7 linked regions of the Homo sapiens genome follow. The protein of the gene in region 2 purifies or fractionates together with the protein of the main gene of each other region. This does not show direct contact. Each region holds a gene or a part of one and is shown on either strand. Other genes may lie near its edges.

Region 1 (4,287 bases), on a different chromosome or scaffold from region 2:
AGGCAGAGCGGCAGTGTCAGTGAGGCACACAGGGGAGGAGCAGACTCTCCCATCCCCTGCCGTGGCCCTTCAGTGGCCTCCTATCGCTGGGGAGAAAATCCACACTCATACCCAAGGATGGCCTGGCCGGCTTCATCTCCTCCTAGTTGCTGGGTGTGCCACCCGCCAACTCCTGCAGTTCCAGGAATGGGCAGGGCTCCCTCCCTACCAGCTCCTCAGGCACATTTTGTGGGCAGGGTTTATGGGAAAATGTCGGGGAGGAGGGCAGGGGGTTACTACAGGCTACTGTATCTGTCCCAAATCAGGGTCAGGTTCTACCTGAAGATAGTAGTGTTAGCTCTGAGTTCATTCCAGACCCGTTTATTTGATTCTAGAAACAGTTCCTATCAAAACCTGCTCTTTTTTTTTTTTTTGAGACTGAGTCTTGCTCTGTCGCCCAGGCTGGGGTGCAGCGGCGCGATCTCGGCTCTCTGCAACCTCCGCTTCCTGGGTTCAAGCGATTCTCCTGCCTCAGCCTCCCGAGTAGCTGGAACTACAGGAGGCACCACCCCGGGCCAATTTTTGTATTTTTTAGTAGAGACCGGGTTTCGCCATGTTGGCCACACTGGTCTCGAACTCCTGACCTCAGGTGATCCACCCGCCTCGGCCTCCCAAAGTGCTGGAAGTACAGGCAAAAACTGCTTTTGAAACGCGTCCTAGCGTTTCTGGACAGCACCGGCCAGGAAGTCAGGAGGCTTGGTGCTGCTCCTGCGCCTGCCCTCGCCCCAAGTCCTGGGCTTCGGGATCCCCATGGCAACCCCAGGTCCCGCTGGCTGTGAGGCTGCGGCCGGAACCCGGTCTTCCCGGCTAGGAGCCCGCGGGGGGCGACCCCCTGCAGGGCTTGGCCTGCTGCGGGAGGAGGGCTCGGGGAAGGGTGCGAGCCGAGCCCGAGGCGCACGGCGAGTCCTGTGGGAGTGGGGGACGCGGGGGCGGCCCTGGCTCCGCCGCGGCACCTGGACCTCTACTTTCCGAGGTGAGCATTTGGGGGTCGAGGGCGTAGAGCGATCGCACCCTGAATGGAGCCCAGGGCAGCCAGCGACCTGTCCCGTGGCCCGCAGTCGTTACCGTTCCGGGGCGGCCGCCTAGGCGGGTCCCGACGCGGCCCGCGGGAGCTCGGGGTGCCCTCGCCCGCCGCTGCCATCTTGCCGCCGAGGGTTCTCTTAGCGACCAGCAACGCCCGCTTCCATTGGTCTTTGTCGCAAGGGGGGGTGTGGCCACGGGCCTAGTCCCTGAGCCCGCGCAATCTCTGGAGCGAAGCTAGCCGGGCCCGGAGCCAGAGGACGCAGCTGCGCCTGTGCGCGTTTCCGCCGCTGTCGTCTCTTCCGCCGGGAGGCCCGCCCGCCAACGGCCTGCGCGTCTGCGCCGGAAGCGGAAATGGTTGGAGCCCTTGGCCCCGCCCTCGCGCCATCTTGGGGGCCCTGGAGGCGGCGCCGCGGAGGACGGAGCGGAAGTGCTCGCTGCAGCTTCCCGGAGCCGGAGCGCAGCGCCTGCGGCCGCCCGTGCCCCGCCGTCCTCCTTCCCGCGGCCGTGAGGGAGACCGCGGCTCGGCCGTAGCGGAGCTGCGAGGTGCCAGGAAGGGCTGCGTGGCGCGGGAACGGCCGGGCAGCGCCGCCTCCGCTTCTTCCGGGCTGTCAAGGCCGCGGGCGGGCGGGGCCGCGCTGAGGGCCGGGCGGGGAGGGCCGTCGGGGCCCGGGTGGCCGCGGGGACCGTGTTCCCGACCCGCGGCCCTGAGGGGTACGGGTCGCGCCTCGGGGTCGGGCCCGGGACGGGGTGCTGGGGGGTGCGGCGGAGCCCTGGGGCCTGCGAGGGTCGGGGGAGCGGGAGAGGGGCCGGGCGGGGGCTGCAGCCCTCGAGCCACCCGGGCCGCATCTCGTCCGCATCCCCTGCTTGGCATCTGGGGGAAGCGGGCAGTCGCGGCCCCCACAGCGCTGCGAGTTGGGCTGTATTCCAGAGTAATGTGCCCTGTCCCCATCCTGCGTCCAGGTCAGCGCTTATCTGTAGGATTTAGTGTTAAGCTCTGGGGTGAAGGCGTTACTGACGGGCTGAAGGGAAACTAGTTACATCGGTTTTGATCGTATTCTAAATAGGCAATAAAATCATAAATTCTCCAGGCTGACTTAGTACTGGTCTGTGGCCCCACTGATAAAGGTATCGTTCGTTTCTCTGCCAGGTGTCTCACAGCACAGAGGGCTGCTTTCAGCCTAAGTACCTTCAGTGGGCTTTTGCCCTTTTCCCTTTATGAAGAGTAGAGACTGGCCGCTAGTCCTGGAAGCACTTTATTTTTAGTTGAGTTGACATTTCCCAGGAAGATGCAGTTATCCCCGTAAGTGGATAAAGGGTTCTCAGTAATTCAGACTCTCACATGGCTTCTGCCGTATGCCTGAGGTGACGGCGACGGCGGTAACAGTGTGTCAGAGCCAGGTGGAGATATAAGATGGTCAGGCCCAGAGGAGCGGGGAGCCCAGGCTGGAATGTGGCCTTGGGAAGGAGGAAGAGACGGGGTCTGGGAGGGCATTTCAGAGGACTGAACAACACCAGAGGCGTGAAGCTTGGTGCACGGCAGCCGGGGGCTTTCTTAGTCCCGGAGGAATTGGGGATGGGGACGTGAAGAGAAAGGTGGGAGCCAGACTGTCAATGCTCCCGGACGCCAGGCAGAGGACTTCATCCTTTCCACGTGCAGAGTGATGGACCACAGATGTGGATGAATGTGACGGGCCTGGAACAAGGCACATAGAGAGTCTTACACTTTCTGGCACGTCCTCATGGTCTCTGCTTGGACTGGTTTTATCTCCCTTTCTGTTTTGTTTGTGACCAGGCATAAAGCAGTCACCTTCAACAGGTAATTGATGGGCTGTCTACTATGTAATGGACTTCCAGGTGGCAGGGCCCAGCCCCGAACCAGACAAGGGACCCCTCAAGGAGCTTCATTCTAGCAGGAGAAAATTGAGAAGTAAACCAGAAAGGTATCAGGAAACAGTTGTACACAAAATAAAAATAGGGTGATGTGATGTAAGGGACTGGGGGTCAGTGTGGGCGGTAACGGAGGCCTGTGAAGAGGAGGTGGGCTTCAAACTGAGCAGAGAAGAGGACTGCAGAGGGGGCAGCTGGTGTGAGGGCTGGCCCTGATCCAGGAACAGGGCTGGCACTGCCTTGCCCGGCTCCAAGGGTGCTCCACGGGCTGCCCACTGATTCCTCACGAGAGCCTTGTGGAGAAGGCATGAGAGGTGCTGTTGTCCCATTTCACAGACTGGAACCTGAGGCATCCTGGAATAGCCTGTCCTAGTCACACTGGCAGAGAGTGGTAGAGCCAGGATCTGAAAGCAGGCTGTTGGAGTCCAAAGTTCACGTTCTTGCTCCTGCCGCCCTGCCTCAGGCTATTCCTGGCAATGCGTTCAGTCAGGGTGCAAGCTGTGTTTGGTATACGTGTGTGTTTGGTATACGTGTTGTGTGTGTCAGACAAGCAGGATTGGCTGATGGCGTTTTGAGTAGGTTTTCTACATGTTCAGTTGGAGAGTGAGAAGTTCTGAGCTTTGCCTAGAGAACACCCTTTGGCGGGAGAGCTGGGTATTTTCTCCCTGACATTACTCTCATCACCTCCAGTCCAGTAAAAGTGCTTTAATGGGAAACAGTCTGAGTAAAACGGGGAAACTTACAAGGAGCTATAGGACGAACAATGTGACGGGTGGCTTTCAGATGGCCTGGCTTTGGCCTAAATAGGGTGGCCATTCCAGGTGACACATTTTAGTGTAGCCTCTATTTAAATATGGAGTTCTTTCAGTGGAGAGTAAAGGTGCTCCTCCTCTGTGTCTGGTTTACACGGCTCCGCGAGACCAAAGGGCCCCTCGGTCTCCTTGAGCAGCCTGGCACTCTGCACAGAGGATCCAGGAACGGTGTCATGGAGCCACATTCTGCACAGACTTGATGATGTGGAGGGAGCTGCCTGGATCACTTCAGCGCATCAGTTGTGATGGGAGAGCCAAGGCACTTGAGGGCGGGATTGCGTCTGGCCACCTGTTGCCTTCCACCTGAAGGGAAGATTTCCCCAGTGCTCACAGTGAGGATGGGACTGGAAAAGCGTTGGTTTCAGGAAGGTGCAGGTTCTGGCTCCTGCCCACTGCGAACATGCTGATGGGCCAGGGCAACTCTTTAGTCTTTGTGAGCTTCAGTTTTCTTATCTGTAAATGAGAACAATAAGACTGACCCCAACTGTTGCTGAGGAATGATGTCTTTGCTTTCATGTCTGGTATT
Region 2 (3,500 bases):
GCTAATACACTGGAGGAGCTAGTGAAGCTTTAGAAGTTCCGTATGGGCTTTTAGAACAAATGTAGGAAAACAGATCCACTTAAAAACAAAAAGCCTAGAATGCTCTAAAACCTTTAGATGACATTTAATTGGAATGCTTGACATTTCCTACTTATTTTCAAAAATAAATTTTCCAAGTGTAGGACACAGGGATCTAAAAGACGTGAGGTTCTACTTGGCAGTAAGCCCTTAAACACCAACATTTTTTATGCAATTTCAGCTGTATCAATAAAAGCAGACTGTTCCAGATAGACAAATGTACTCTGCAGTGATCATGACACAATTGTAGCATTGCATTCAGCTCTGAGTAAAACATCTCGAGAGGGCCATTTAAAAATTGCAGTGTGTTCGCTGAAGGAGGGCAACCTGAATGGCGAGGGCAGTAACCTATGCTGTGGGAAGAATGGTTGAAGAGCTCAGGATGTTTGACTTGGACAAGGGGATTCTCAGAGGAGGGCTGAGGTGCATTCAAATATTTGAATGGCTGTCACGGAGAAGGGGTGGGGAGAGCTGATTCACTGTGTGTCCTTCCACAGGACAAAGCACAGCCTCTGAAAGGCAGATTTAGGATCTAAGCAAGGAATAACTTTTTAGCAGACGCAACTATTTCACAGGGCAGTAAGAGGCTTCGTGAAATGGTGAGCTCCCTGTTACTCAAAGTGCTCAAACAAAACTGGGGACAATTTGATGAGACAGCCTTTAGGGTTTTGACAATTTCTATATTCTGGTTTTAAGCTCCAGAGAAGGAAGGACACCCAATTCTACAAGGACTTTATTAAGCAATCAGTTGGGCCATACCCTGTGCCAGCTAGAAAAGCAGAGAGAGACAGGAGTTTAATTAAAATTGCCAAAAGAACTGCAGTGCGGTTCCTCCTTCCTGCTTCTCCCAACCTCAGCACAACTCACCGACAAGTAGTTACTATGCTTCGATTCTTTCATGCTGCATTTACAAACACTGCCTCAGTACACAAGTGCTCAGTCAGTTTTCCTGCCTGACCAACTGTGGTTTGTGGCTGCAGCTGTTAAAGGCTATTTGTAAAATCTTGTTGTTCGTAGTTGACTACTCCTTGCCACACTAGACATTCTGCTGCTGAGTCAGGGGCCGCCACAATGCAAATGGCAGCCTCAAGTGCACTGTGGGGGCCACTGCTGACCACTGAATGTGCCTTGACTTGGTCCATGACTACAAAGGGACTGTATCTTTGGCTGGAAGCGGTCAGAGGAAAAACTAGGTTTGCAGATGAGAGTCATCAGAATCTTGAGGATCCTGCTTCTTGTGATGCATCTTGGCAAGTTGATGGCTTTTACTGGATCCATGATCACTTTTTTCTCTGAACCCAGGAAGAAACATTACAAATACACTGCAAGCTATTAAAAATGATGAAATATTGCCAGCATGAAATGATTTATTCACATCAGAGCAAAGAAGGGTGAGCTCATTCCAAGAAAAATCCATCTGTACAAATGTCATTAAAAATGTCCACCATTGGGAATGATAGCAAGAGGGGGAAAAAATTGTCCACCGAACAGAAACTAAACTGCTACCATGGCGATTCCCAAGAGGGGAACTGTGGAGAGGGAGAAGAGAGATTTTACCTTCTACATCATATGTTTCCATGTTATTTGAGGTTCCTTTTTTGCATGTGCTTTTTTATATTAATAAAGACACATTGCCATTTTGAAACAGAAAGACATGCCCACCAAGAAGATGACATTGGGTGTAAATTGTGATAGTTACAAGACTGCTATTTTCTTCAACAGAGAAAACTAAGGTAGTCTGTAAAAGTAACACCTTCAGAGCTGGCTACATTTTAAATTTGTGATTTCTATTTTCCTGGATACTGCTGGCATGTTTGAAAATACATATGGTGCTATGTATGCCCTAAGTGGCTGTTCACAAATGGGATCAAAGCTACACAAAACACATTTCTAATCAATTTCTTTTGTCCTTTATAGATCTTATTGGCCTGCCATGGGTGTGCTTTATATATACAATCATGAGTCTAGCATCCCTGCTTTTTGTTGTTATGTTTATACCTGAGACAAAGGGATGCTCTTTGGAACAAATATCAATGGAGCTAGCAAAAGTGTAAGTATTACATGCATTGGTTTCTGAACAATACTCTTTGGTCAAAAGTGCAGCTTTTATATACAGCAAAGGAATAATATCTGAAATTATTAGATATTATTAGATTAGGACATTCCCTTTAGCGTAAGACTATGTCTCAGTGCATAATTCCAATTTCCCTGCTTTGTCTTTAATTTGGGTGATTCAGCTAAGGAAGAATAACCATTTCTTCCCAATGAATGAAGCTTTTTTTTTTTTTTTCAAACTACAAAGTGAATGTATTTGATTGGCAAGTGCAAATTTTCACTTATCAATGAAATATTGTACTGAATTTGAATAAAATCTTTACAATTGGAATGTTTTTTAACGTTAGCCTTTTATAATTATCATCAAACTGTAATGCTATTATTCATTACTATGACCAACCAATATGTACGTACAAGGTTACAAGTTTTTTCCTTTTATACGAAACAAAAACAAAAATACATCATTGTAATTAAAAAGCATTAAACCATATTTTCCTTTTTTGTAATGTAATAATTTTTACTAGAACAAAGTTTAATATTTTCACTGTCTGCATTTCTTTTCGGAAAAAGAAACTGTTACTATTGTTGTTTTACCTGATTTTTTCCTGAAACTAATTTTGTTGTACAGAGGATGTGAATCTTCTGTGCTACTGATTAAAACTATCTCATTTAAAAAACAGTTTATTTCCATAGGTTTTTGGGGAACAGGTGATATTTGGTTACAGAGTAAGTTCTTTAGTGGCGATCGTGAGATTTTGGTGCACCCATCACCGGAGCAGTATACATTGAACTCAATTTGTAGTCTTTTATCCCCCACCACCCCCCAATGCTTCCCCCACCCAGTCCCCAACCAACGGGTGAACATTTTAAAGCTCTACTCAATCACCATCTCAGAACTTCTTCCGCCTCTCTAGCTCCCCCCAACAGGTTTTCTTTGTTTGGGGTTTGGGGTGGGTCCCGGAAGTGTAGATATACCATGTTCACACTGGGCTAGGAACTTGGGTCTCAGCCTTTCCATCTCTATCAGACTTAGAGCTCCTTCTCTGTGCCCTAAACACTTGCTAAGGCTAAGATTAGCAGAAAAACTCTCAGGCTTAACCATCTACCGTTGTTCTAAATATTGCACATTTAAGGTAATTTTAAGAAAGATAAGTTTCTTATATGAATAGGCTTTTAGAAAACTGGTTTAAAAAATTTCACAAGGAGAGATTGTTTAAACAATTTAACTTAGAAGTGAAACATTTAATTTAGAAGTGAGTGGCAGAAAATTCCCTTTCCTTTTTTAGTAGCTCTAATTGCCAAAACCATGTCCTGGGGGAAGAGGTGAGACATAGGGGCTAAGAATGAAGCAGAACTTGTTACTCTTC
Region 3 (3,500 bases), on a different chromosome or scaffold from region 2:
ACTTCCTGGGCTCAAGAGGTCCTTCTCCCTCCACCTTCCCAGTAGCTGGTGTACGCCATCATGCCCCAAAAATTTATTTTGATTTTTGTAGAGGCAGAGTCTCACTATGTTGCCCAGGCTGGGCACAAATTTGTGGCCTCATGCAATCCTCCCACCTTGGTCTTCCAAAGTGCTGGGATGACAAGTGTGAGCCACTGCGCCTGACTACTATTTTTAATTTTTAAATTATTGTTATTATTTTTAGAAACAAGAGTCTTGCTCTGTTGCCCAGGCTGGAGTGCAGTGGTGCAATCATGGCTCACTGCAGCCTTGACCTCCCTGGCTCAATTGATCCTCCCACCTCAGCATCCCACATAGCTGGGGCTACAGGCATGTGCTACCATGCCCAGCTAATTTTTAACTTTTTCATAGGCATGGGATCTCTCTATGTTGCCCACACTGGTCTCAAACTCGTGATTCAAGCAATCCTCCTGCCCCAGCCTCCCAAAGTGCTGGGATTACAGGCATAAGCCACCATGCCTGGCCAGTATCTTACTGTTAAGGAATTAAAATCCAATTAAAAAATATTTAGCCTCATATACACACACACATACACATATGTGTGTATATATTTATATATATTTCTAATATATAGAAGTTTCTATATATTTCTATTATATCTAAGATACAATATACAGTTATCATGTTATCCCCCAAATAAAGGTGATTTCCAAGACCAGAACTGGAAGGTGGGAATTATTCTGTATGACCCAGCTATTTGGATCTGGATTTTTTCAGGGAGAAGGAATCAGATTTAGATGACTGGCAAGGAAAGATCATGCATTTTACAGAAGGAGGTGTATTATAGGGGTGGAACTTTGGCTTAGTTCCAATCATTTTCAGCAGTATCTAGTATAGCCACCTCTTATCCCAGGGCAGCCTCACAAAGTCATTGCCATCTGTGATATGGTAGCAGGGATATGAGCCCTGGAATCACTCAGACTTCATTTCAGAATGCTGACCCCACCAGTTACTAGCTGTGCCCTGAACAGAACAAAAGAGAATACTGGTTTTATTCATTTGTAAAACTGGAAAAATAATTGTGGAGTTGTTTTGAGAATTCATACATGAAAATAGAGTGCATGGTACATACCTGTAGGCCTTCCTTGCCCCCATCATCCCACACCTCCACCTTCCAAGGTGCATGTTCAGTGTCCCTTACCTGTGTTCCCACAATGGTTGGTTATCATAGAAGCTGTCACATTGGTGTAATTGTTCACCTTGGCACATTCTATTAGTTTGTGAATTCCTTATCTTTGAATCTCTAGCAACTTAGCAGAGGACCTAGTTCATAGTAGGTACCAAAGAAGTATAAATATGAATAGAATGAGTGCATGTCTTGCTGTTTTATTTCTCAGGGGAGGAATGTGGGCCTATTTCAGCAGGACAATAGATAGATACCGTATATAGTGTAGTCAGTAATTACGAACTAGTCTAGTGGCTCTGAAAGTTTTTGGTGTTAGGACTCCTTTACAGTCTTAAAAATGATTGTGGGCCCCAAACACCCTTTGTTTATGTGGACTGATATTCAGGGTCTTTAGGAATTTAAAATTAAAATATGAATTTTAAGGTAATGATAAACACATTACATGTTAACACATTTTCATGAAAAATAACATTCATGCCTCCCATTTTTTTCTAATGATTTTACAGTCATTAGAAAATATTTTACAGTTTTCTAAGCCTTTTGCATGTCTGACTTAAGATGGAGTTTCCTGTTTGCTGCATTCAGTCTGTTGTGATAAGTCATTTTGATTAAAGTATATGCAAAAAATCAAGCCTCACATAGATATGTAGTTTGAAAAAGGAAAATCTCCTGGACTCCCAAAAGGATCTCAGGGACTTCCAGGGGTCTTCTGAAAATGCTTTAAGAATCACTGATCTAGTCTGAAAAGGAAAGTGTGGTGTCCAGATATTAGAGGATGGATTAGGGAGAAAGCCCATGTGTTTAGCTCTCTATAAAACGGGTTTACCCGTTGTCATTTATTATTTGTAGGTTAAAAAAAGTCCTTCATGAAAAAGAAAGATCTTAAGCAGCATGATGGATTCAGAAGCTCATGAAAAGAGGCCACCAATACTAACATCTTCAAAACAAGATATATCACCTCATATTACAAATGTTGGTGAGATGAAGCATTACTTGTGTGGCTGCTGTGCAGCCTTCAACAATGTCGCAATCACATTTCCCATTCAGAAGGTCCTCTTTCGACAACAGCTGTATGGCATCAAAACCCGGGATGCAATACTTCAGTTGAGAAGGGATGGATTTCGAAATTTGTATCGTGGAATCCTTCCCCCATTGATGCAGAAGACAACTACGCTTGCACTTATGTTTGGTCTGTATGAGGATTTATCCTGCCTTCTCCACAAGCATGTCAGTGCTCCAGAGTTTGCAACCAGTGGCGTGGCGGCAGTGCTTGCAGGGACAACAGAAGCAATTTTCACTCCACTGGAAAGAGTTCAGACATTGCTTCAAGACCACAAGCATCATGACAAATTTACCAACACTTACCAGGCTTTCAAGGCACTGAAATGTCATGGAATTGGAGAGTATTATCGAGGCTTGGTGCCCATTCTTTTCCGGAATGGACTCAGCAATGTCTTGTTTTTCGGCCTTCGAGGTCCCATTAAGGAGCATCTGCCTACCGCAACGACTCACAGTGCTCATCTGGTCAATGATTTTATCTGTGGAGGTCTATTGGGTGCCATGTTGGGATTCTTGTTTTTTCCAATTAATGTTGTAAAAACTCGCATACAGTCTCAGATTGGTGGGGAATTTCAGTCTTTCCCCAAGGTTTTCCAAAAAATCTGGCTGGAACGGGACAGAAAACTGATAAATCTTTTCAGAGGTGCCCATCTGAATTACCATCGGTCCCTCATCTCTTGGGGCATAATCAATGCAACTTATGAGTTCTTGTTAAAGGTTATATGAAAAAACCATCAGTTAAGTGCCATTTATCAACTGAATAGACCTTCTAAGAAGAATGCAGTTTGGCCTCTTTTTTTTTTTTTTTTAAAGGAAATCCCAATCTTATTATGGAAAGCCATCAACTGGGTGTGGGGAGTAGGTCAGAGGGTTAGTGAAAGTCCAGGGGATTTCTCCTCCAAGTCCTACCACACAAAGGAAAGTCTCAAGCCTCTATTCACCCCTTCTCAATCCTCACAAAATAGGGGGTTGTTCAATATTGTCTTCAATGATAAAAACTTTGTGGTTAAAAGTTTCTCCTTAGGACTAGTGACAAAGTTAGGCTTATACTTTTTTTTTTTTTTTTGAGGCAGAGTCTTGCTCTGTTGCCCAGGCTGGAGTGCAGTGGCACGATCTTGGCTCACTGCAACCTCCGCCTCCAGGGTTCAAGCAATTCTCCTGCCTTAGCCTCCTAAGTAGCTGGGATTACAGGCGCCCGCCACCACGCCCAGCTAATTGTTTTGTATTTTTAGTAGAGACGGGGTTTCACCATGTT
Region 4 (4,228 bases), on a different chromosome or scaffold from region 2:
GATTAAATATTAGAATTCTGCTCCGCCCCCCACCAAAGGATACCGGTATTTTTACTAAAATATATTTTTAGGTTTGTTTTGGCATATTCTTTTCAAAGAGATTTGAAACTCTTAAATTGTTATAATTACAAAATCTTATATTTGAACTTTCAAAACATTACTCATTTTGAAGTAGAATCTAAAACTACATTTAAAAACATTTCTGCCCACATTTGGTCTGTTTAAGGGACTAACCTTTGAACACACTAGTCTTATTTTGAAAGGGCAAGGTGTTTTTTTTTTTTAATAGCCAGTGCCCCACAGAAGAAAAACTGTGACACCCCCCCCCCACAAAGTGCTCATATATATCACCTGTGTTTGTTAGCAATGTTACCTCCAACTTTGTTATCTTGGAGTAATTGACGAGTAAATCATTACAAATGGGTCCAACTCTAAAGGCAAAATCGTCAAAAAGAAGAAAACAGCAAATCCAACTTGCCTTATGTTTATTAGAGGAAATCCTGAAACTTCTGTAGATTGCAGTGTTAGGAAAAACAAGTTTGTGATTACAGCGATGTTATGACCACTTCCCCACTCTAACTCTGTTGTTTAAGGGAGTCCACTCCTAACTGCTGACTCAGTTTGTCTTTACTGCCAGAACTGAAGCGTGACCCAAATTGTCTGCTGGGTTGAGTAGGAACAAACGGGCAAAATGATGATCACTTGGCAGTTCTAGGTTTACTAAAGGATACTTATTTGGTCTAAACACTGTTTGTGGGACTGCAAAGGTATAAATAATGCCCCTCCCAGGAAGGAAAAGGAAAATCTAAAATCTTAGGCAACCGACTCAAGGTCACTGACGGAAGGCACCATTTGAGACCGAGCTCCTCAACTACAGTCCCATCACGGACGGGAGCCACACAGGAGAGCGTGCAGGAGTTTCGAAGCTGCGTAGTACAATAGCTGGCGTGGGCAGTTCTTTTATACTCTGGCTAGAGTAAAATTAACGCACCTTTGCGTTTCTCCATCGCCTCTGACAGCATCCAGCTAAAGGGTGTAGGGTTAAGGAAAGCGGAACCCAGTTGTCCTTTCTCAGCTGAGTCCTTTCAGAAACTGGGACTGAGGAGGGTGAGCGCCGCGGAGAGGGGCAGGGGTGGGAGAGGAGAGAGGGGCGCGGGGCGGGGAAGAGGCGCGTCTGGAAGGCAGTGGGGAGAGGGACTGAGAGGAGTGGGGTTGAAGTCCAGCTGGGAGCATCCAGCGGCGCTGTCTGCAGACAGGGGCGAAGGCAGCCGCTGAGAGTGAGGCAAGAGCGGGAAGCCGAGGGAAGGGAAGGAAGTAAGGAAAGAGGAAGGAAAGGCAGGAGGGGGTAGAAGCTGAGCGGCTGCAATTTCTGCGGCCGGCTCAGTAGGAGGAGCAGGAGGGGAAAGAGGAGGATCCAGTCAGTCAGTCAGACAGCCAGCGGGAGGTGGAGAAAGCAGGAGGAGGAGGAGGATTAAAGATGGCCACCAACAGCTGCGGGAAACGGCAACAACCCCTCACTTTCCGGGATGGTCCCTGCGGGTCGGCCCGGCCTTGATGGAGAGAAGAAACCCGAGGAGCGCCGAGGCTGAGGCGGCGGCGGCGGGGACCCAGCGAGGACGAGGACGCGGCGGAGCAGGGACGGGGGCAGGAGAAGGGAAAGGCGGCGGCGTCGCTGCCCCTGCTGCCTAGCACCGCTGCCTGGCCCGGCGGACCGGTTCCCATACCTCGCGGCCGCAGAATCGAGCTCGGGCCCCGGCCCCCGGCCCGCGGCGCGGGGCTCCCGGGCCCCGCCGCGGACGTCGCGCCGGTCGCCCCTTCCCCGTAGCCCGTGCGCCCTCGGCGCGGAGCCCCGGCCCGCCGCGGTCCCGTCTCCTGGGCCTGTCCCGCCCGCGCCCTCCGCCGGCCCTCAGGTGAGTACCCCCGCCATCCTCCCCGCCCCCCGCGCTCCCGGAGAGGCGGTGCTGCCTCGGCCCGGCGCGCCTGGCCGCTTTGTTCGTGCGGGGCGGAGGCGCTGCCCACTCGCGGCCCTGCGCCCGCTCCCCCTAGGGACAGGCCGCGGCCCAGCTGCTGTCCTCCCCAGGGTCCGCCTTGGCCGGGAGCCGCCGCCGCCGCCAGGGTGGGCGGCCTGGCCCTAGTCCTCCGCTGCCTCCTGGGGAGGGCGCCGTCGCGGACGGGTCGGGGTCGGGGTCACGGGCGGCGAGCGGAGCGGAGCGGAACCGGGATATTTCGGGGGATAGGGGAGGAGAGGGCTGGACGTTACCTGTGGGAAGCAGTGGGGGCGTAGGCGGCCCTGGCTCGCAGGGGTAGGGGATCAGGCCCTGGCCCCCCCCCGCTGCATCCTGCGGGGTCTCAGCTCCCGGAGCCACCCGGACCTGAGCGCAGCCGAGCGCGGCCTCCATCCCTCGGGCGCTGTCTCCAGGGCTTCGGGCCTCTCCCCCTACGCCCTACGCTGGAAGCCCTTCGATTATGGAAGGAGCCAGAGATGCTCCAGTTCTCTTGTACTGGGGATGTGGTGGCATCGCAAACATTCACAGTTACGGCGGGATTTAAGAAGCAGATGAGACCTTTCCAACCAAAGGCCATCTGGCTAGTGTTTGAGCCTCAGGTGCAGTTTTTCATTGATTTTTACCATTTAATTGTGAGATCTGCAATATCAGGTCTTCCTTTCACAGAAACAATGTGATACAACCAGATTGAAAGGATATTTACTGCATATGTGAACCCTTGCATGGACTTCCAGTACCTTAAAAATGGTTAAGTGTTTTCTGTTGGAAAATGGTGCTCATGCATACGAAAAACTATTTTTGTTCAGTAATGGTTGCCAACTGGTTTACTATGTAGTTTGAACACCAAACAATTAAAAAGGAAAAACAAAACCCTATTCTTCGGGCTTTTTAAATAGTGGCATATTTCCAGGTTGGTATTTGGTAGCAGGTTGAGAACAACTGGTTTCGACTATCAGGCGACGTAACAAACATAACATAAAACAGAACTAAAAATGTGCTAATTTATAGAAAAACATGTTGTATTAGTGCATAAGTCTAGTAAAAAAATCCGACTTTAAAAAAAATAAAACTTTATCATGAGACTCTTAAGTATAGGAATTAGGTTGGTATGTTTTTATGTTTAAAAATATATATTGCATTAGAATTGAGAACTCTTCCTATGATATTTGAGCAATAGTAAAGTATGTTAATACTTTGAACCATTCTATCTCAAGCTGCTAGAAAGAGGTTTCTACTGCTAGTTTCTTTCCATGAGTTAAAATGGATTCATCTGAAATATATGTATGCTTTTGGTGGGTCACAGTGGGTCATGCCTGTCATTCCAGCACTTTGGGAGGCCAAGGCTGGGGGATCACTTGAGGCCAGGAGTTAGAGACCAGCCTGGGCAACAAAGAGAAAACAATTTTTGTAAAGAAAAAAAAAAATGTTTCAAAAAATTTGTATCACCTCCAAAAAGGAGGGATAAGTTAGAAAATACAATGTTCTACTCTTGCATAATCTGTTTTTGAAAAAGTAAATGACAGTATATTTCAATATTAGTTGGATTCTCTGCTTTGAAGAGATTCTTAAATTCCACTGCTCAACTTTGCAATTTTAAAAGTTTACATCAGTTGTTCTTAATTTATTTATTTATTTCTTTTTTTAGAGACAGGGTCTTGCCCTGTTGCCCAGGCTGGGGTGTAGTGGCACGATCACGGTTCACTGCAGCCTTGAACTTCTGGGCCCGAGTGATCCTTCTCCCACAGCCTCCCAAGAAGTTAGGACTACATGTGCATGCCACCATGCCTGTCTAATTTTTCTATTTTTTGTAGAGATGAGGGTCTCCCTGTGTTGCTCAGGCTGATCTTGAACTCCTGGCCTCAAGTGATCCTCCTGCCTTAGCCTCTCTAAGTGCTGGGATTACAGATGTGAGCCACCATGCCCTGCTTCTTTCTTAATTTCATGCATATACTTCTGAGGGTCCTTGGCTTCCCAGAAATCATATGCAGAATATAGCATATATTTGCTTTTTTCCTAGATAAAGACTCTGTTGGGTGATCACATTCTCAAAAGGATATGGGTCTGTAAAAGATTATGAACTTCTAGATATAAAATTAAAGAATACATATTCCATATTTGGAAAGCTAAAATTTTTAAATTACATTTGATGATTTATGTCCTTCATTTCTGATTATGCCCAAGAAATGTTTGTGATTAAGAGTTCAGCACATAGACGTTGTTTC
Region 5 (2,778 bases), 2.2 Mb from region 2:
ATGTAAAATTAATTTTTCAGTTTTTCTCAGATGTGTTGTTTATGTTACAGCTTTGTGTTCAAGTTCTCTTGAAGTAATTGTGCAGAATGGGCTATATAATTGTTTATTGATGCTGCTAATGTTTCTGGGGTTTTTTTGTTGTTAATTTTATATGCTCATTTTCACTTTTAGCCTATCATGAGCTCTTTTGAAATAAAATACTTAATTTGAAAAATATTTGTGCATATGTTTATAATGACTTATCTTAGGTGCCAATTTGATGTTGCCATCTGCAGTATGAACTGGGTGTCTGACAGTTTGAGAGGGCCAGGGAAGAATGGTGCAATAGATTCCCCCTAACCATATGGAATGTGAATACGCCAAGATTTTTCTCTGTCAAATATACAGACTTTGGATATTTTGTTGAATATAATGTTAACTCTGCATGTAAAAAAGCAAATGGGATTATAGTTATCTTTAGTGACAGCACTTACTGGATGCCTAGGATGACAAACACTGGATTTTAAGCATTTGAGCCTTAAGATTACTCCTTACTTGAAGTCTCTTTTCTTAAATTTAGAAGTAATTCTAATTTTGGGGTGGTTTTCACATGTCTTAATTTAGTTGAGGTAGTATTAACACATAAGAATAAGCCTTGAGAATGACAGGAGTGTGGAAGAGGAACAGCATCTAAAGTCAGCTAGATAGCACTGAGGAAGGACAGACGTCAGCAGAGGAAGAGACTGGAAAACTCAGATGCATTGAGCCCTCCAAGAGTGTAACAGGGCCGGGCGTGGTCATCCCAGCACTTTGGGAGGCTGAGGTGGGCAGATCATGCATGAGGTCAGGAGTTCGAGACCAGCCTGACCAACACGGTGAAACCTCGTCTCTACTAAAAATACGAAAATTAGCCGGGTGTGGTGGCACGCATCTGTAATTAATTCCAGCTACTCAGGAGGCTGAGGCAGGAGAATTGGTTGAACCCGGGAGGTGGAGGTTGCAGTGAGCCAAGATTGTGCCACTGCAGTCCAGCCTGGCGACAGAGCTAGAGTCAGTCTCAAAAAAAACAAAAAAAGAAAAAGAGTGTAACAGAGTGGAGGGACTTGTCACACACACACATTGCCACTCCAGTGTGTGCAGCCTCTGTGCTCACCATTGTGTGTGTGTGTGTATATATCTGATGTTTAGCATGTTGACTTAGAAAATTATATTCTTTTAACTATTTAAGAAGACACTTTAGAACTATTACTATAAAAATGCAAGTGTGTCTAAAATAAATGTTTAATTTTAACATTTGTAGAGCAGTTTGTAACTTGCAAAGTACCTTTTTTACTCATCTCACTAGATCTTCACAGCAGCAATCCCTTTTCCCCCGAAAATGTGAGGGAAATGATCCCTGTAGTGCCTATAATCCCATATCTAAGGGGCAGAGCAGAGACTAGAACTTGGTTTCTTAAAATTTGAGGATGTTTGAAAATTTGAGGATGCATTTATGTAAGAAGTTCCCGTAGGTGGAACACACTGTTTCCCAGTGATAGTGGATAAACGAAGTGTTTCTAGGTTGTCATTTACTGCTTGCTATTAGTTCAGTGTCTCTTAGCACTTTTTCCAGCCAATTACAAGTATTTTAGATAATCTTCTTTTTTTTTTTTTTTTTTTTTTTACATAGTTTTTAGCACTTAATTTCAGGCTGGGCACATAGGGACTCAAATTTTAGTTGCCTAAGAGCTCAGTCTGTGCCGCTGAGAGTGTCTCGTTCACTTTTGTCCTTGGCTCTGAGCGTAGTACCTGATACATAGCCAAATAACTATGTATTATAGTAATAAATACGGTAAATAAATATTGTGAATGAAACCTCAGAGGGTCATCTGGCCTTTGTCTTGCCATTCTTTTTTTTTTTTGACATTAGAATAATTTCTGTGTTAAATATTTGCTTTATTTCAGTTTGGACATCACATTTCACAGTCAGAAGGACAGCGAACTAAAGAAGAAATGGTCAACACAAAAGCTGTTGACCAAGGTATCAGCAACACAAGCCTTCTAAACTCAAGGATTTAAACTCAACTTAAGGTTGAGCTTTAAACTTCCAAAACTTCTTCCTGGATGATAAATTATTCTTAGAAACTGATTTGGACTGTTAAAGGCTAAAAGTAGATGTATTTAAAGACTCTTCTTGACACATTTTGCCTACACTTGCTATGTAAATATGTATGCCTGTCATTTTTGTTTCCTTTGTTCCTTTTTACGTTTATACTCTGTTCTTCTGTACATAGAGCTTAAAATAAACATTCTTTTTGAACTTGCTTGTGTTTTGTAGCAACCAAAATTCATGTTTTCTCACCACATAGTCTGACCTTTTTTTGTTGTTGTTTTTTGTGAGGAATGCCATAGGTAGAGTTTCTTGGATAATAGAAATGAAACATAAGTTTGCAACAGATATTTTGTCCCTCTTCTCCCACATACTAATGTGATATGGAAATTTACATGTTTCCCTGGACCTTTCAGACTGTGTGCAACAGCCAGGGAGCTGAGGTCACCACTGGAATGGACTCAGCCCCACCCATTTTGCCAAGCTCTTCACTTTCAGCAAAGCCCAGGTTTCCTACAGTTTTCTTGTTGTTGTGGTAGAGAGTTGCTTGCCTAGCCCCAGCTAGGAGTGGCTGTGTGGCAGTTATGACCATGAAGAAAAGGGTTAGAATCACAGAGATGACATCACTGAGCTGTTGAACCAACATCAACAGCTCCAGTTAGGAGTGGCTGTGTGGCAGTTATGACCATGAAGAAAAGGGTTAGAATCAC
Region 6 (3,500 bases), on a different chromosome or scaffold from region 2:
TGGGTGTGGTGGTGGGCACCTGTAGTCCTAGCTACTTGGGAGGCCGAGGCAGGAGAATGGCATGAACTCGGGAGGCAGAGGTTGCAGTGAGGTGAGATCGCACCACTGCACTCCAGCCTTGGTGACAGAGTGAGACTCTGTTTCTGTAAAAAATAAATAAGTAAATAAATAAAACTTGCCAGGTGTGGTGGTGGGCACCTGTAGTCCCAGCTACTTGAGAGGCTGAGGCAGGAGAATGGCTTGAACCCGGGAGGCGGAGCTTGCAATGAGCCGAGATTGTGCTACTGCACTTCAGCCTGGGCGACAGAGTGAGACCCTATCTCAAAAAAAAAAGAAAAAAAAAAAAAAAGGCAAAAAACTACAGTGACAGAAGCAGATCAGGATTTTCCAGGGCCAGTGAGGAGTCAGGGAAAGGGTAATTATATTGGGGTTGATGGGATTTGGGGGTTGATGGAAGTATTCTGAATCTTGATTGTGTTGATGGTTACATGCTCTATATATTTGTCAAAACTCATTGGACCGTATACTTACATGAGTGAGTTTTGTTGCATGTAAATCATACTACAATAGGCCGAGCATGAGAGCTCATGCCTGTAGTCCCAGCACTTTGGGAGGCTGAGGCAGGCAGATCACAAGGTCAGGAGTTCAAGACCAGCCTGACCAATGTGGTAAAACCCCATCTCTACTAAAAATGCAAAAATTAGCCAGGTGTGGTGGTGTGCACCTGTAGTCCCAGCTACTTGGGAGGCTGAGGCAGGAAAATCGCTTGAACCTGGGAGGTGGAGGTTGCAGTGAGCCAAGATCGCACCACCGCACTGTAGCCTGGGCGACAGAAAGGGTCTCTGTCTCAAAAAAAAAAAAAAAAAAAAAAATCATACTACAATAAAACTGCTTATTTAGGCCGGGTGCGGTGGCTCATGCATGTAATTCCAGCACTTTGAGAGGCCAAGGCGGGAAGATCACCTGAGGTCAGGAGTTCAAGACCAGCCTGGCCAAAATGGCGAAACCCTGTCTCTACTAAAAATATAAAAATTAGCTGGTTGTGGTGGCAGGCACCTGTAATCCCAGCTACTTAGGAGGCCGAGGCAGGAGAATAGCTTGAACCCAGGAGGCTGAGATTGCAGTGAGCCGAGATTGCGCTGCTGCACTCCGGCCTGGGCAACAGGGTGAGACTCTGTCTCAAAAAAAAAAAAAAAAGACAAAATAGAAAAACCACATAAATATTCACTTTATTGCCAACAGGAAAACCATCACTTCCTGCCTTATTGTTTAAAAACACAAATTCACCCATATTCAATCACATGATAAACTGGAGGGGCTGCAGTTTGCATGTGACTGAGTGACTTGCCAGTGTGATTATGTTGCAGATGTCAGCAGACACATGTCAAGGGTTAGTCACCAGACATTGCCAAGAAATACGAAAAGAGAATCTGCATGCGATCCAGGCACTAACACAGCAGTACGCTTTTATTTTGCTGGAAGAGCCTGTGGCACAGCCCATGCATTGACATTTGATCTTGTTTCAGCTAAACTAAATGTGTCTGTTAAGATTTTTTTTTTTTAATTTGAGGTAGATTTAGGTATGAGGGGAAAAAGTTTTCAGCCCTTTTCCTGGCATAGACCTTACAAAAGAACTACTTTCTTTAGCTGTGTTTGTTGAGGCCGTTGGTGAGTGTTTGAAATCTTTTTAGTTGGCTTACTGCTAACTGGAAATTTAGGACGGTTGGGGGAATGCCTGACTCAACGTTTTAACTAAGCTCTCTCTGAAAAGGGATCTCCCCAGCAAAATCTGTAGTGCAATCAATTACCAAGGGAGCGGCTGAAAGTGCTTAATATGCTTAAGCTGGCTTCAGAATGCATGTTCTGTATTACAAGGAACCTGGGTGGAAACAAAACAAATTCATCTATATGTTTTGTTTGTTTGTTTTTTGAGCTGGAGTCTTGCTTTGTTGCCCAGGCTGGAGTGCAGTGGCACGATCTCGGCTCACTACAAGCTCTGCCTCCCAGGTTCACGCCATTCTCCCGCCTCGGCCCCGCGAGTACCTGGGACTATAGGCGCCCACCACTACACCCGGCTAATTTTGTTTTTGTATTTTTAGTAGAGACGGGATTTCACCGTGTTAGCCAGGATGGTCTCCATCTCCTGACCTTGTGATCCACCCGCCTGGGCCTCCCAGAGTGCTGGGATTACAGATGTGAGCCACTGTGCCCAGCCCACCTATATGATTTTTATAAAGGGCATATCTAAATCAAAATAATCCAGGAAGTGACAATAAAATAAAAAGGTGGAAAAGTTTATCTTGGACAAATGCTGACAAAATGAAAGTACCATAGCCATATTAGTGTGGGATAAAATAGACTTCATATTGATGAAAGATGTAATCTCCTAAAAGAAATAACAGTTATACCTGCTGGGCACGGTGGCTCATGCTTATAATCCCAGCACTTTGGAAGGCCGAGGCAGGTGGATCACGAGGTCAGGAGTTCGAGACCAGCCTGGCCAACGTAGTGAAACCCCGTCTCTACTAAAAATACAAAAAAATTAGCCGGGCGTGGTGGCCACCGCCTGTAATCCCACCTACTTGGGAGGCTGAGGCAAGGAGAATTGCTTGAACCTGGGAGGTGGAGGTTGCAGAGTTGAGATCATGCCACTGCACTCTAGCCTGGGCGACAGTGTGAGACTCCGTCTCAAAAAAAAAAAAAAACAGTTATGAATGCTTGTGAACATAACTTTAAAATATATAAAGGAAAGCTAAAGGAAAAGTCTGATGTAACACAAGTATATATTGACAAACCACAATCTTGGTGGGAGATTTGAATATATTTCTCATGAGTCAGCAGATCAAGTAGATAGAAAATAAGTATATAAAAGAATTCAATGACACAATTAGATACATGTAATAGAGATTACATACTCTTCAAAGCTTGTAATAAGTCAACTCACAAACACTGATTTTAAGTCCTTCCACAAAGAAAATCTCAATAAAATAGGGATATAATAAGTCACTTCCCTCCTAGGGCGATAATGTGTATAAAAGTGTTTAAGGTATAAAGCCTTAGAAAACATTTGTTCCTTTTAATGCCCTGATGTGTTTTATCCTAGGAACGGCAGCAGTAGGACACACAGACAAGATTGGGAGATTGAAAGAACTCTGTGAGCAGTATGGCATATGGCTTCATGTGGAGGGGTAAGCCGGCGGTGAGGCTGGTGGCTCCATTCGGGCCTGCACAGAGTCCTTATGAGGACTGGACATCCAGGCTCTCACTTTGGTGACATTTATCACGAAGGGCTCTTTGGGTCACAGATCACAAAATAACCCAAATTGGCTTAAGCCCAAAGAGATCTTACTGGCTCACATAACTACAAAGAGCAGTGTTATGACTGCCTCAGGCACGACATCAACCAGGATCCAGTGTGTTACTCCCACCTCTGCTCCCCCAGTCACAGGCACTGGGCTTGGTTTCCTCTATCTGTGGACAGATCTTCCTGTTACAGTGCA
Region 7 (3,500 bases), on a different chromosome or scaffold from region 2:
GGCTAATTTCGTTTGTGTAGCGACAGGGGCTCGCTGTGTGCTTCTGCTGGTCTCGAATTCCTGAGCTCAAACGATCCTCCCGCCTCGGCCTCCCCGAGTGCTGGGATTATAGGTGTGGGCCACTGCGCCTGGCTGCCTCCAGCATCTTATCTCATTAATAGTCAGTGTTCAGAAAATGATTGCTGTTATTATTATTTTTATGTATTATTGTTGGTCAGATGGGTTTTCCTCAGGTTGAGAAACTGTTATTTGCTCAATCATCCAGTGATTGATGGACACTTATATTAGCTCCATTTCTCACTGTTTTATTAGCAACACTGCTGTGAATCACTTTGTACAGATTACTTTCGTTGGGAAAGGGGCAAAGGAGGCACTGACTTCCTTGGATGTGTTCTCCAAAGTGGAATTATGTTGTCAGCTATAAAAATTATAAAACTTGTTACATATTGACAAACAATGCCTGTCAAAATTTGCAGGGTGCTGTGGCTCACACCTGTAATCCCAACTTCCAGGCTGCAGTGAACTATGATCACACCACTGCACTCCAGCCTGGGCAACAGAGCCAGACCCTGTTTCTTAAATTAAAAAAAAAAAAAATTAGCTGAGTACTTAGATCAGATGGATTGAAACATGACAGCCCCATTTCATCTGGCCGGTTAAGGTCCTCATGGAATGAAAAACACTTTCGGGCACTCTCCTATGAGAGAGAGAATGGGTTTCTTTAATTGCCAGATTGTCTGAACACAGCCTCAGCTACTTCTAGGAATAAGACGAAGCAGTGAGGAAGTTGCCAGTTGAGTGATTCTTGGGGAAAAAAATTAGCATTCAGTGCCAGCTCTCTAAAGTGTGGATTCTGGATTCTGGTAGAAGCCAGTAAAGAAACGTTTTCTCTGGAGTGGAAGCTAGTAAGATTTATTCTGTGGTGATGAAGCCATCTGAAACCTTACAAGCAGTGTGGTTGTATCAGCATATGGGAGCTGACTGCCTCAGGACTTTGGAAGCCTGCTTCTCTGTGCCTCAGCCGGAACTCAGGTTACTCAGTAGTCATTTGCTAATTTCTGAGAACGCAGCACTCCTGAAGGGATAGAAAGCATGAACAATACCCAAACTTTTTAGACTAGTACTGTGTGTCAGGTATTGTAACATTCATTCAGTCCCTGAAATGTACAAACTAGTTATTGCTCCCCTTTTTCATTTGAGGATACTGATGCCCAGATAAGTTAAGTGGCTTGCCCTGGGTCACATAGCTTGTAAATGCCGAGCTAGCATTTGAACCCAGGCAGTCTTCTTCCTGGAATGCTTGCTCTTAACACTTCACTGTTCTATGAAAGGTCTTTGGTGGTGGGCGTCACTCCTGGTTCACACTTAGGTCACTCCTTCCCCAGGACCCACTGGGTCACACCTCCCCTCCCCACACCCACCCCAGTGGGCCTCAGTTCTGGCTTATCATGGAGGCCTTCCCTGACTGCTACTGCAACTCCACCACTCCCTATGTCTTTCCCTGTTTGTGTTTTCCCCATAGCACTTTCCACAGTCGGCTACACTGTATCTTATTGTTGGTTGGCTGGCTGATCTTTGGTCTTTGTTCCACCACTGAGGATGTGGAGGGAAGGAATTGTTGTCTTGTTTTGCTCCTTCTGTTTGGATGCTTCCAATAGTATGTGACATGTACTAGGTGCTCAGTAAATATTTGATGAGTGGATTATACTGCTTCCTTCCTGAACCAATATAGTGAACCTGAGTCCTCCCTATTACTTCCTACTTTTGTATTTTCTAATGTATACAAAAGGAAGGCCAGGCATGGTGGCTTACGCCTGTAATCCCAGCACTTTGGGAGGTGGAGGCGGATGGATCACTCAAGGTCAGGAGTTCGAGACCAACCTGGCCAACATGATGAAACCCCATCTCTACTAAAAATACAGAAATTAGCCGGGCGGGCGAAGGTTGCAGTGAGCTGAGATGGTGCCACTGCACTCCAGCCTGACAACAGAGCGAGACTTTGTCACAAAAAAAAAAAAAAAAAAAAAATTAGCCAGGCATGGTGGCACACACCTGTAGTCCCAGCTACTAGGGAGGCTGAGGCAGGAGAATAGCTTGAACCCAGGAAGCAGAGGTTGCAGTGAGCTGAGATCATGCCACTGCACTCTAGCCTGGGTGACAGAGTGAGACTCTGTCTAAAAAAAAAATATTTACAAATCATGCATCTGATAAGGGACTAGTATCCAGAATATATAAAGAATTTTTAAAATACAATGGATAGGCCGGGCGCAGTGGCTCACGCCTGTAATCCCAACACTTTGGGAGGCCAAGGCTGGTAGATCACTTGAGGTCAGGGGTTCCAGACCAGTCTGGCCAACATGGTGAAACCCTGTCTCTATTGAAAATACAAAAAATTAGTTGGATGTGGTGGTGTGCACCTGTAATCCCAGTTACTTGGGAAGCTGAGGCAGGAGACTAGCTTGACCCCAGGATTCGGAGGTTGCAGTGAGCCGAGATCATGCCACTGCACTCCAGCCTGGCGACCGAGTAAGACTCTGTCTCAAAAAAAAAAAAAAAGCCGGGCATGGTGGTACACACCTGACCTGTAGTCCCAGCTACTAGGGAGGCTGAGGCAGGAGAACAGCTTGAACCCAGGAAGCAGAGGTTGCAGTGAGCTGAGATCATGCCACTGCACTCTAGCCTGGGTGACAGAGTGAGACTCTGTCTAAAAAAAAAAAAAAAAAAAGTAAAAAGGCAGCTAACAAAATGGAAGAAAATGTTTACAAATCATGCATCTGATAAGGGACTAGTATCCAGAATATATAAAGAATTTTTAAAACACAATGGAAAGGCCGGGCGCAGTGGCTCACGCCTGTAATCCCAACACTTTGGGAGGCCAAGGCTGGTGGATCACTTGAGGTCAGGGGTTCAAGACCAGTCTGGCCAACATGGTGAAACCCTGTCTCTACTGAAAATACAAAAAATTAGTTGGACGTGGTGGTGTGCACCTGTAATCCCAGTTACTTGGGAAGCTGAGGCAGGAGAATAGCTTGACCCCAGGAGGCGGAGGTTGCAGTGAGCCAAGATCATGCCACTGCACTCCAGCCTGGGCAACAGAGCAGGACTCTGTCTCAAAAAAAAAAAAAAAAAAACAACAACAACAACAAAACAATGAAAAGACAATCCAGTTTAAAAACAAGAGAAGGATTTGAATAGCCATTTCTTCAGAAAAGGTATTCAAATGGCCAGTAAGCACATGAAAAGTTGTTAAACATCATAGGTATTAGGGAAATGGAAACATCAATACAAATCACAGAGACGCCATTCTATACCTGCTACAATGGCTGTGATAAAAAAGAAAGGCAAGAACAAGTGTTGAGAATGTGGAGAAATTGGGACCCTCATACATTGCTGATTAGATTGTAAAGTGGTACAGCTGCTTTGGAAAAAAGCCTGGCAGTTCCTCCAAATGTTAAACATAGCTACCATATGACCCAGCAGTTCTACTCCTATATATCTAC

The links.
Region 1: the proteins of SLC2A12 (region 2) and RER1 purify together in Homo sapiens (affinity purification with mass spectrometry; 2 studies listed by BioGRID and IntAct, with this or other methods). This does not show direct contact.
Region 3: the proteins of SLC2A12 (region 2) and SLC25A51 purify together in Homo sapiens (affinity purification with mass spectrometry; 2 studies listed by BioGRID and IntAct, with this or other methods). This does not show direct contact.
Region 4: the proteins of SLC2A12 (region 2) and WDFY3 purify together in Homo sapiens (affinity purification with mass spectrometry; 2 studies listed by BioGRID and IntAct, with this or other methods). This does not show direct contact.
Region 5: the proteins of SLC2A12 (region 2) and MTFR2 purify together in Homo sapiens (affinity purification with mass spectrometry; 2 studies listed by BioGRID and IntAct, with this or other methods). This does not show direct contact.
Region 6: the proteins of SLC2A12 (region 2) and PDXDC1 purify together in Homo sapiens (affinity purification with mass spectrometry; 2 studies listed by BioGRID and IntAct, with this or other methods). This does not show direct contact.
Region 7: the proteins of SLC2A12 (region 2) and TAMM41 purify together in Homo sapiens (affinity purification with mass spectrometry; 2 studies listed by BioGRID and IntAct, with this or other methods). This does not show direct contact.

The regions. Positions count from the first base shown.
Region 1 is NC_000001.11:2,390,354-2,394,640, forward strand, and holds the start of RER1 (protein RER1), read left to right. Parts: upstream 1-1,487; 5' UTR 1,488-1,605; intron 1,606-4,287. Other genes in the region: MORN1 (MORN repeat-containing protein 1), read right to left, coding at 1,105-1,180. UniProt on the Homo sapiens protein: Involved in the retrieval of endoplasmic reticulum membrane proteins from the early Golgi compartment.
Region 2 is NC_000006.12:134,000,625-134,004,124, reverse strand, and holds part of SLC2A12 (solute carrier family 2, facilitated glucose transporter member 12), read left to right. Parts: intron 1-1,995; coding exon 1,996-2,128; intron 2,129-3,500. UniProt on the Homo sapiens protein: Insulin-independent facilitative glucose transporter.
Region 3 is NC_000009.12:37,887,128-37,890,627, reverse strand, and holds the end of SLC25A51 (mitochondrial nicotinamide adenine dinucleotide transporter SLC25A51), read left to right. Parts: intron 1-2,035; 5' UTR 2,036-2,077; coding exon 2,078-2,971; 3' UTR 2,972-3,024; downstream 3,025-3,500. UniProt on the Homo sapiens protein: Mitochondrial membrane carrier protein that mediates the import of NAD(+) into mitochondria. Mitochondrial NAD(+) is required for glycolysis and mitochondrial respiration.
Region 4 is NC_000004.12:84,963,891-84,968,118, reverse strand, and holds the start of WDFY3 (WD repeat and FYVE domain-containing protein 3), read left to right. Parts: upstream 1-1,428; 5' UTR 1,429-1,910; intron 1,911-2,260; exon of another isoform or gene 2,261-2,503; intron 2,504-4,228. UniProt on the Homo sapiens protein: Required for selective macroautophagy (aggrephagy). Acts as an adapter protein by linking specific proteins destined for degradation to the core autophagic machinery members, such as the ATG5-ATG12-ATG16L E3-like ligase, SQSTM1 and LC3.
Region 5 is NC_000006.12:136,230,534-136,233,311, reverse strand, and holds the end of MTFR2 (mitochondrial fission regulator 2), read left to right. Parts: intron 1-1,923; coding exon 1,924-2,037; 3' UTR 2,038-2,278; downstream 2,279-2,778. UniProt on the Homo sapiens protein: May play a role in mitochondrial aerobic respiration essentially in the testis. Can also promote mitochondrial fission.
Region 6 is NC_000016.10:15,013,026-15,016,525, forward strand, and holds part of PDXDC1 (pyridoxal-dependent decarboxylase domain-containing protein 1), read left to right. Parts: intron 1-3,103; coding exon 3,104-3,188; intron 3,189-3,500.
Region 7 is NC_000003.12:11,822,886-11,826,385, reverse strand, and holds part of TAMM41 (phosphatidate cytidylyltransferase, mitochondrial isoform a precursor), read left to right. Parts: intron 1-3,500. UniProt on the Homo sapiens protein: Catalyzes the conversion of phosphatidic acid (PA) to CDP-diacylglycerol (CDP-DAG), an essential intermediate in the synthesis of phosphatidylglycerol, cardiolipin and phosphatidylinositol.